2 separate regions of the Homo sapiens genome follow, and region 2 is reported to be linked to region 1. Evidence: microRNA targets listed by miRTarBase, many of them from high-throughput screens and not tested one by one. Region 1 holds a microRNA gene; the other region holds the end of a gene's coding sequence.

What was found. Region 1 holds the annotated microRNA hsa-miR-455-3p (GCAGUCCAUGGGCAUAUACAC, at 1,430-1,450, shown strand). A microRNA usually pairs through its seed, bases 2 to 8, with sites in the 3' UTR of a target mRNA and lowers its output. Matches are read on the target gene's strand: a 7mer-m8 pairs with bases 2 to 8, a 7mer-A1 pairs with bases 2 to 7 and ends in A, and an 8mer does both.
Region 2: miRTarBase lists TRIM45 as a target of hsa-miR-455-3p. The part of its 3' UTR that is shown has no 7-base or 8-base seed match.

The regions. Positions count from the first base shown.
Region 1 is chr9:114,208,058-114,212,446 of GRCh38, forward strand. It overlaps MIR455 (microRNA 455), which reads left to right and starts at 1,377; the gene lies at 1,377-1,472. COL27A1 (collagen type XXVII alpha 1 chain) reads left to right here. Exons shown (of 61, transcript NM_032888.4): 11 at 1,618-1,671; 12 at 2,925-2,969.
Region 2 is chr1:117,109,817-117,112,816 of GRCh38, forward strand. It overlaps TRIM45 (tripartite motif containing 45), which reads right to left. Exons shown (of 6, transcript NM_025188.4): 6 at 1,244-2,637. The coding sequence ends at 2,489. Among named protein-coding and RNA genes, the nearest start is that of TRIM45, 10 kb to the right of the region's middle.

The DNA of each region.
Region 1 (4,389 bases):
ACCACATTTCAGCTGTTTGGTCCTAGGCAAGTTGCTTCACCCCTCTGGGCCTAAATGGTCTTACCTCTACAGGGGGCTGAGTAATAATACTTCCTCAGGGCTGGGCGCGGTGGCTCGTGCCTGTAATCCCAGCATTTTGGGAGGCCAAGGCGGGTGGATCACCTGAGGCCAGGAGTTCGAGACCAGCCTGGTCAACATAGCGAAACCCCGTCTCTACTAAAGTAACTACAAAAATTAGCTGGGCGTGGTGGTGCACACCTGTGATCACCTGTGATCAGCTATTCAGGAGACTGAGGCAGGAGAATCGCTTGAACCCGGTAAGCAGAGGTTGCAGTAAGCCACGATCGCACCACTGCACTCCAGCCTGGATGACAGAGCAAGACTCCGTCTCAAAAAATATATATAAATAAAAAAATAATAAAATATAATACTTCCTCGGGGTGTGATAAGGATGGAATAAATGCTTTAATATATGCAAAGCACTGGCAGCAGGCCTGGCCTATCATTCGTGCTCAATAAACATTAGCTTTTGTTAGAGTTATTATTAAATCATTCCACCAAGAGTGGCACGCAGATAGTGGTAGAAGCCCCGGGCGAGGTTACTGCCCTTTAGAAGTTCCCAGGCTAATGAGGACGTGAAGCATGAACACAAATAATGAAGATACAAGGGAGAAAGTGGAGAAGGATGCTACCGAGGTGCAAAAATGGCACTGGGGATGGGGGGGAGAGATTGCTTCCGGCTTGGGGTATCAGGGATGCTTGCCCAAGGAGAGCGCTTATGAGAGCTGGGCTTTGAAGGATTTGGCTCAGAAGTCATGAGGGATGGGAAGGACATGCCTGGTGGAGGGGACAGAGTGAGGAAAGGCTGGGAGGGAGGAAATGAGATGCATCCTAGGGAAGAGCCCCAGAATGGTGACGAGCCCCAGCTGTGGAGTCAGCTGGCCCTGGGTGACCCTTGAACTGATTAGGAATTCCCGAAGAGAATTCACAGCTCCACTACTGACTAGTCGTGTTGCTTTATCTACAGAGCCTCAGTTTCTTTGTCTGTCCAGTGTGGGTGGTGACAATCTGGGGGGTCCTTGTGAGAGTCTAATGTGGTAGCATGCATGTGCCTGGCACAATGTTGGCACTCCGGGTTCGCAGCCGCTGTTAGTTAATGCCAGCACTCAGGCGGCCAGAGGTGGATGTAAGCCCTACATCCAGGACCTTGAAGGCCTAGGAGGAGCCATGGCAGGAGCCACGGGCACCTACCAGCATCCCTGGGGGTGGGCAGGGCTTGGTGCCGTGCTAGCATCTAACCCAGCCGCGAGCTTCCTTCTGCAGGTCCTGGAGCCCTGGCGTGGGGCGGGCCTCCTGCCGGCGAGCGCCTGCGCCCTTCCCTGGCGTGAGGGTATGTGCCTTTGGACTACATCGTGGAAGCCAGCACCATGCAGTCCATGGGCATATACACTTGCCTCAAGGCCTATGTCATCGAGGAGCCACCGGAGCTGCCACTGCCACCAGGGAGGAAGAGGAGGAGCCGGGATGTGGGATGGCAGTGGTGGGTGGGCTGCGGCAGGTTGGGCCAGCCACACCTCACTGCTTGACCGCTCTGACCCCCTTTCTTCTCTTTCCTAGGGCTACATTGGGCTCCCAGGGCTCTTCGGCCTGCCAGGGTCTGATGGAGAACGAGTAAGTTTGCTTCTTTGGTTATTCACCATCCACAGCCACCCCTGCCCAAACAGAGCAGAACCTGCCAGGCACCAGCCTGGGGAAGTCAAGGAATTCCTCCTGGAGGAGGTGCACTTGAGTCGAGTAGGAGTCTGATAAGGGGACAAGTCAAGGCAGATGCATTCCAGGCATAGGGAACAGCATGTGCGAAGTCAGGGATTTACGGTAACTTGGCGAGTTTAACACTCAACACTGCCAAAGTGCTGCGTGAGAGGGTGAGAGTGGTGGGAGTTGAGGCTGGAGAGGACCCTGGGGCAATGTCTTAGGTGCCCAGGACTAAGGTTAGAAAAGGAACTCTGTTCTGAGGGTATGCGGAGCCTCTTGAGGACTTGCAACCAATGAACACCGGGCCCACTTTATAATATAGATCAGGGGTCTGCAAACGGTGGCCCATGGGCCAAATCCAGCCAGTTGTCTGTTTTTGCAAACAGTTTTATTGAACTCAGCCTTGCTCATTTGGTTACATATTGTCAATGCCGCTTTCTCACTACAATGGCAGAGTTGAGTAGGTGTGACAGAGACCGTATGGCCCACAGAGCCAAAGATATTCACTATCTGCCCCTTTCCAGAAACCATCTGCTGATTCCTCTTTTAGACAGATCAGTTGGTTTACTTGAGTAAAATGTGTTGGTTGGGGGTGGGGACAGCAAGAGCAGGTGGCAGGAGTTCCAGCAGCCAGGGGGAGCGGCTGTCTGGGGAAGGTGGTGGGACTGGTTTGGTGGTGGGCAGTGGGTGCTAAGATTTCCTAAGACACCCTGTCCTTCCAGACCAAGTATCTAAGTCAGAGGAGTCCAAAAGATGGTGTGGGAGCTTCTCACAGACCCCTGGCCCAGCCTGGAGGTCCATTAGAAGCCCCTGGGGTGGTGGCCTCGGGATCTTCCTCCCCGCCCCCTCCCAACCTGAGCCCGTATCTATGGGAACTCACTTGTAACCTCCATAAGCTGGGTATAGAGAACCTTAGGACAGCTGGAGCCTGAGCATTTATGAAGCACCTGCTGATTACAGGAACTGGCATTTCTCTGTCTCTTAGGTCACCACAGACCCCGACCCTGCCATCCGTCTGATGTGCATGTCACTGGGGCCGCCACGCAAGTGGCACACATTCCAGGCCCTCTGTGACTTCCTGCCGTGGGTGGCTCTGGGCTGGTTTGGGGCAAGCCTGGCTGTCCCTGCTGGCATCCTGCCCTGACCTCTCCCCTGTCTCTCCCCTGCAGGGCCTGCCTGGCGTTCCTGGCAAGAGGGGCAAGATGGGTATGCCGGTAAAGATTTTCCGTGTCTATTACGCAGACTCTAGCGGGGAACCCCACCTCCCACGGCCACGCTGCCCTGGCCACCTGCTGCCTGGCATCTTCTGCTTCTCCCCCTGCTTTGAGTGTGGGGGCCGCATGTGGGGTTGTCTGGCCACAGGACCTGCTGCTGGCACACGGCGTGACTGGGGCCTGGCTGGGGCTGGGGCTTCCATGGGCTCTGGACCCCTCTGGGGTAGCTCCTGTCTCCCTGTGGGCATCAGTGGCTCTCCAGTGCAGTTCTGTGTCTGGGGGCTTCTGTCTAAGGTATTTGTGTCTGTGGGTCTGCTGTGACCGGGGGACCTTGGCTAGACCAGGTGACTCTGCTCCCATCTCAGGGAACACTCAGTCTCCACATCGTCTTGGTGTCATCCGGCTCTGTCCAGTTTGCTCATGCACACGCAAAGCCAGAGGACAATGGGGTTTATGGGCAGTGCCCACAGCAGGCATGACCGAAAGAGGGGCTCAGCGGTGACCCCCAATTCACCAGCTTTCTCTATGGCTCCCCATCATGGGAGGAAATTGTTTTTCCCTTTGTTTGGACATGTGCAGAACATGGAGAAAGAGCCAAGGCACGGAGAGATTAAGTCACTTGCACGATGAGTAAACAATGCAGCCAGGATTGGAACTCAGTTGGTTTGTTCCCGGTGTCTTTGATCTCAGTGGCTGCTTGAGGCAGCCTCTCAGGGTCCCTAGTTGGCAGTCATATTATAAAAATAGGTTCCCTAGACTCTTCGCCTGGAAGGAAGATCATTCATTCCAATTATTGAGAAGCGGGAAACTGAGGCTCTGAGAGGCAGAATGAGATACCAGGGTCCCTCTGCCACTGCCCTGCAGGTTGACTCCTTGACTTGGAACCATGGTCAGACCAAGTCTGGGCCTCCCATCGCTGGTGGTTGGTGAGGAAGGGAGTATGAAGAGGAGGCCTGGAGCATTCGAGAGTGCTCAGAGGGGCCTCTCCGTGCTTCTGCCACTGATGGGCATGTTAGCTGTTGGAGCGTTTAACCTGGGCCCTCTGGGGGCCAAAGAGGAAAAACAAAGAAAAGAAAAAAGCCTCAAAGAGCTGACAGAGGAGGTCCCTCCACCCCCAACCTAGACCCCTCTGTGGCCCGAACAGGCAGTCTTCTCTAAGGTCCAACACCTGACACCTAGACCTGGGCAAGGAGCAGCACCTGATGCTCCCAGCTTCAGGGCAAGGACCTGGAGTCTGAGAGGGCTGGGCTGGCACATGGGGTTGTCCCTCAAGCCAGCATGACCTCAGGCAAGGAGATTTGTTCATCCAGTGATTATCTGTTCATCCCATGAATATCTGTTGAATGCCTGCTATGGGCCAAGCATTTTGCTTTGTTCTGGCAGAGCAGTGGATAAGACAAAGTTCCCACTCTCTTGGGGC
Region 2 (3,000 bases), not on the chromosome of region 1:
TGGAAAGGTGGGAGGTTGTGGTTGCAGGATGCCTGAAATTGAGACTATGCAGAGGGTGCAGTTGGAATCAAGATCTAGGGTATGTAAGGCTAAGTAGGGAAAAAATAACACTGGGGAAATGATCACAGAACTAAGAAGTCTGTGTAGACAATGAGTTATCCCAAGATTGATAAGGAGTTGTACCAGAGTCACAGCAAGCTCAATGCTATAATCTTCAAGGAACGAAGGGGAACAATTTGGGGCTCAGTAGATGGCTGAACCATGGAGGAATAGCAAGCTGTATAGCTGAAAGGCATGAGCTCCAAGGCTGGCCATTTTTAGAAAAAAAGTAGGGCTAATGCTCTAGAACAGGGTTTCTCAACAGCGGAACCACTGACATTTTGGATTGGATACTTCTTTGTTTCAGGAAGCTGTCCTGAGCATTGTAAAATGACTAGCAGCATCTCTGACCTTTACCCACAAGATGCTAGTAGCACCTTGCCCCAGTAGTGGCAACTAAAAATGTCTCTGAGACTTTGCCAGATGTCCTCTTAGGGGCAAAGTCACTCCTGGTTAAGAACCACTCATCTCGGCCAGTCATGGTGGCTCACACCTGTAGTCACAGAACTTTGGCAGGCCAAGGTGGGCGGATCATGAGGTCAGGAGTTCGAGACCAGCCTGGCCAACCTGGTGAAACCCCGTCTCTGCTAAAAATACAAAAATTTGCCGGGCGTAATGGCACATGCCTGTAATCTCAGCTTACTCTCGGGAGGCTGAGGCAGGAGAATTGCTTGAACCTGGGAGGCGGAGGTTGCAGTGAGCTGAGATCGTGCCACTGCACTCCAGCCTACGTAACAGAGCAAGACTCTGTCTCAAAAAAAAAAAAAAAAAAAAAGAACCACTCATCTCAAAGCAGCAGTAATAAGCTAAAAGGACATATACTTCTGGGCTGAGTGACAGAAGGAGTGAGGAAGAGCAAATAGCTAATAATTTGAGAGGGTGACAGGCAGGAATGTGTTTTGGGAAGATCAGATTTGGGTTACAGAAAGAGGCTGAAGGGAATGTTTCCAGAAAAGGGTGAGAACGCAGAGAACATCTTAGTATTTATGGCTATAATGTAGCCCATGTCTGTCAGCCTCAAGGAGGAAATGTATTCCACAATGATCTGACAGTCATCATCTAATCATTCACTTCCTTTACCTGACCCAATTCGCCAAGTGAGTCATCCACTTCTTAAGGGATCTTACAATGCAGATTTCAATAATTATATTTAATACATGCTGAGTTTATTGCCATATAAGAAATCAAGAGTTTCAGAAGAACACACAAAATATATACAGTGAAGACCTTGGCAGGGCTGAGGCACCAGTGCTGTGTACATCCTCTCCCCAAATTCTCCAGCAGCTAAGAAGGCACACTATGAGTGAAGGCACAGTAAGAGTCAAAGCTCCCAGTTAACTTTCTAGGTATATAGATAACAGTGAAGACTACTCTAAAGACTACTCTACTAAAAAACAGAGCTGTGAGAAGGATGAAGGTGTCTAGATTTTCTGTATAAGTAGAACTGTAATAAATGTATGAGGTTCTATTTCAACACCATTCCCCTTTATTAACTTTCTATTTGTATGCCCTTGACCAAAGAGTAATCTTCCAGGCTTTGGGGCAGAAGGCTGTCATGGCATAGAGACGGAGTAGGGGGACACCACCAAAACAAGATCACATTATCATGATCACAAAACATGTACCAGTAAATCCAATGAAAGTATGCTAACAAAAAGTGGACAGGATGAAAGGAGGTTTCTAATCTCTAGGGGAAATATCTAAATAATGTGTAGCTCAGAGAAAAATGAAAAAGGTCATAATAGGCCAGGTGTGGTGGCTCATGCTTGTAACCCCAGCACTTTGGGAGGCCGAGGCAGGTGGATCACGAGGTCAGGAGTTTGAGACCAGCCTGGCCAACATGGTGAAACCCCGTCTCTACTAAAAACACAAAAATTAGCTGGGTGTGGGGGAAGGTGGGGGGGAACCTGTAATCCCAGCTACTCGGGACACCAAGGCACGAGAATCATTTGAACCGGGAGGCAGAGGTTGCAGTGAGCCGAGATCATGCCACTGCACTCCAGCCTGGGTGACAGAGTGAGACTCTGTCTTTAAAAAAAAAAAAAAAAGAAAAAAAAAGGGTTATATCAGAAAGGAACTAAACTACCTAGACCCTTCAGTGCCAATGGAATAGATACCTCCATACTGTACAAAATGAAAAGGAGTATCCTGTGGTAGAAAAAGAACGTTGCCAACCTACCTTTAAGAGAAATGTAGAGGTGGTTTTTTGTGCTCAACCATCCACAAGTACAATCAGTGAATAACTAACAAAAGAGCACTTGAACTCCAGTGCAAGATAAGGCACTTTGTTTTTAATTCTATCAGTCTCTTTAGAATGAACGAAGGTCTGGGTCCTCTGGAAATCTCAAGTGGTGCTGCCTGCAGCTTTAAAAGGCTGAGCACAAACCCATCAGAGAGCCACAGTCCTAAGTAGACTCCTCGGTGCGCTCTGCCCACCTGTCCATGTGCATTCAGATTTCTCATTAAATTTTCCACAGCATGACCAGTGGGGATGACCTGGGTGGCCTTTGTGTCCATGGCCACAGCCTAGGTACCCACCTACATGGGACAAAGAGGAAAGGACAAAAATCAACCATTAGCGTGGAGGCCAGCAGTTACCATTATCATGGAAATTAGACCTCCTGGCAACATGCAGATTCATGGGAGTGAAAATATCTAAGAAAATCTTGGCAAGAGGAACAAGCTGTCTGACTGTTGTGCAGTCAGGAGGACCCTGAGAATTGATCACAGCAAATCAACTCATGTTAGCCGGAGTTCTAAGAATGCTGTAGTGATAGAACTTACCACCTGAAGGAGGCGAACTAGTTTGCACATTAACTGTAAAATAAATTGGTTTGGATTTTAACTGTAAAATCATTGAAATAAAAAAGGATAGGTTGGTGGACATTAAAAAAATAGAGG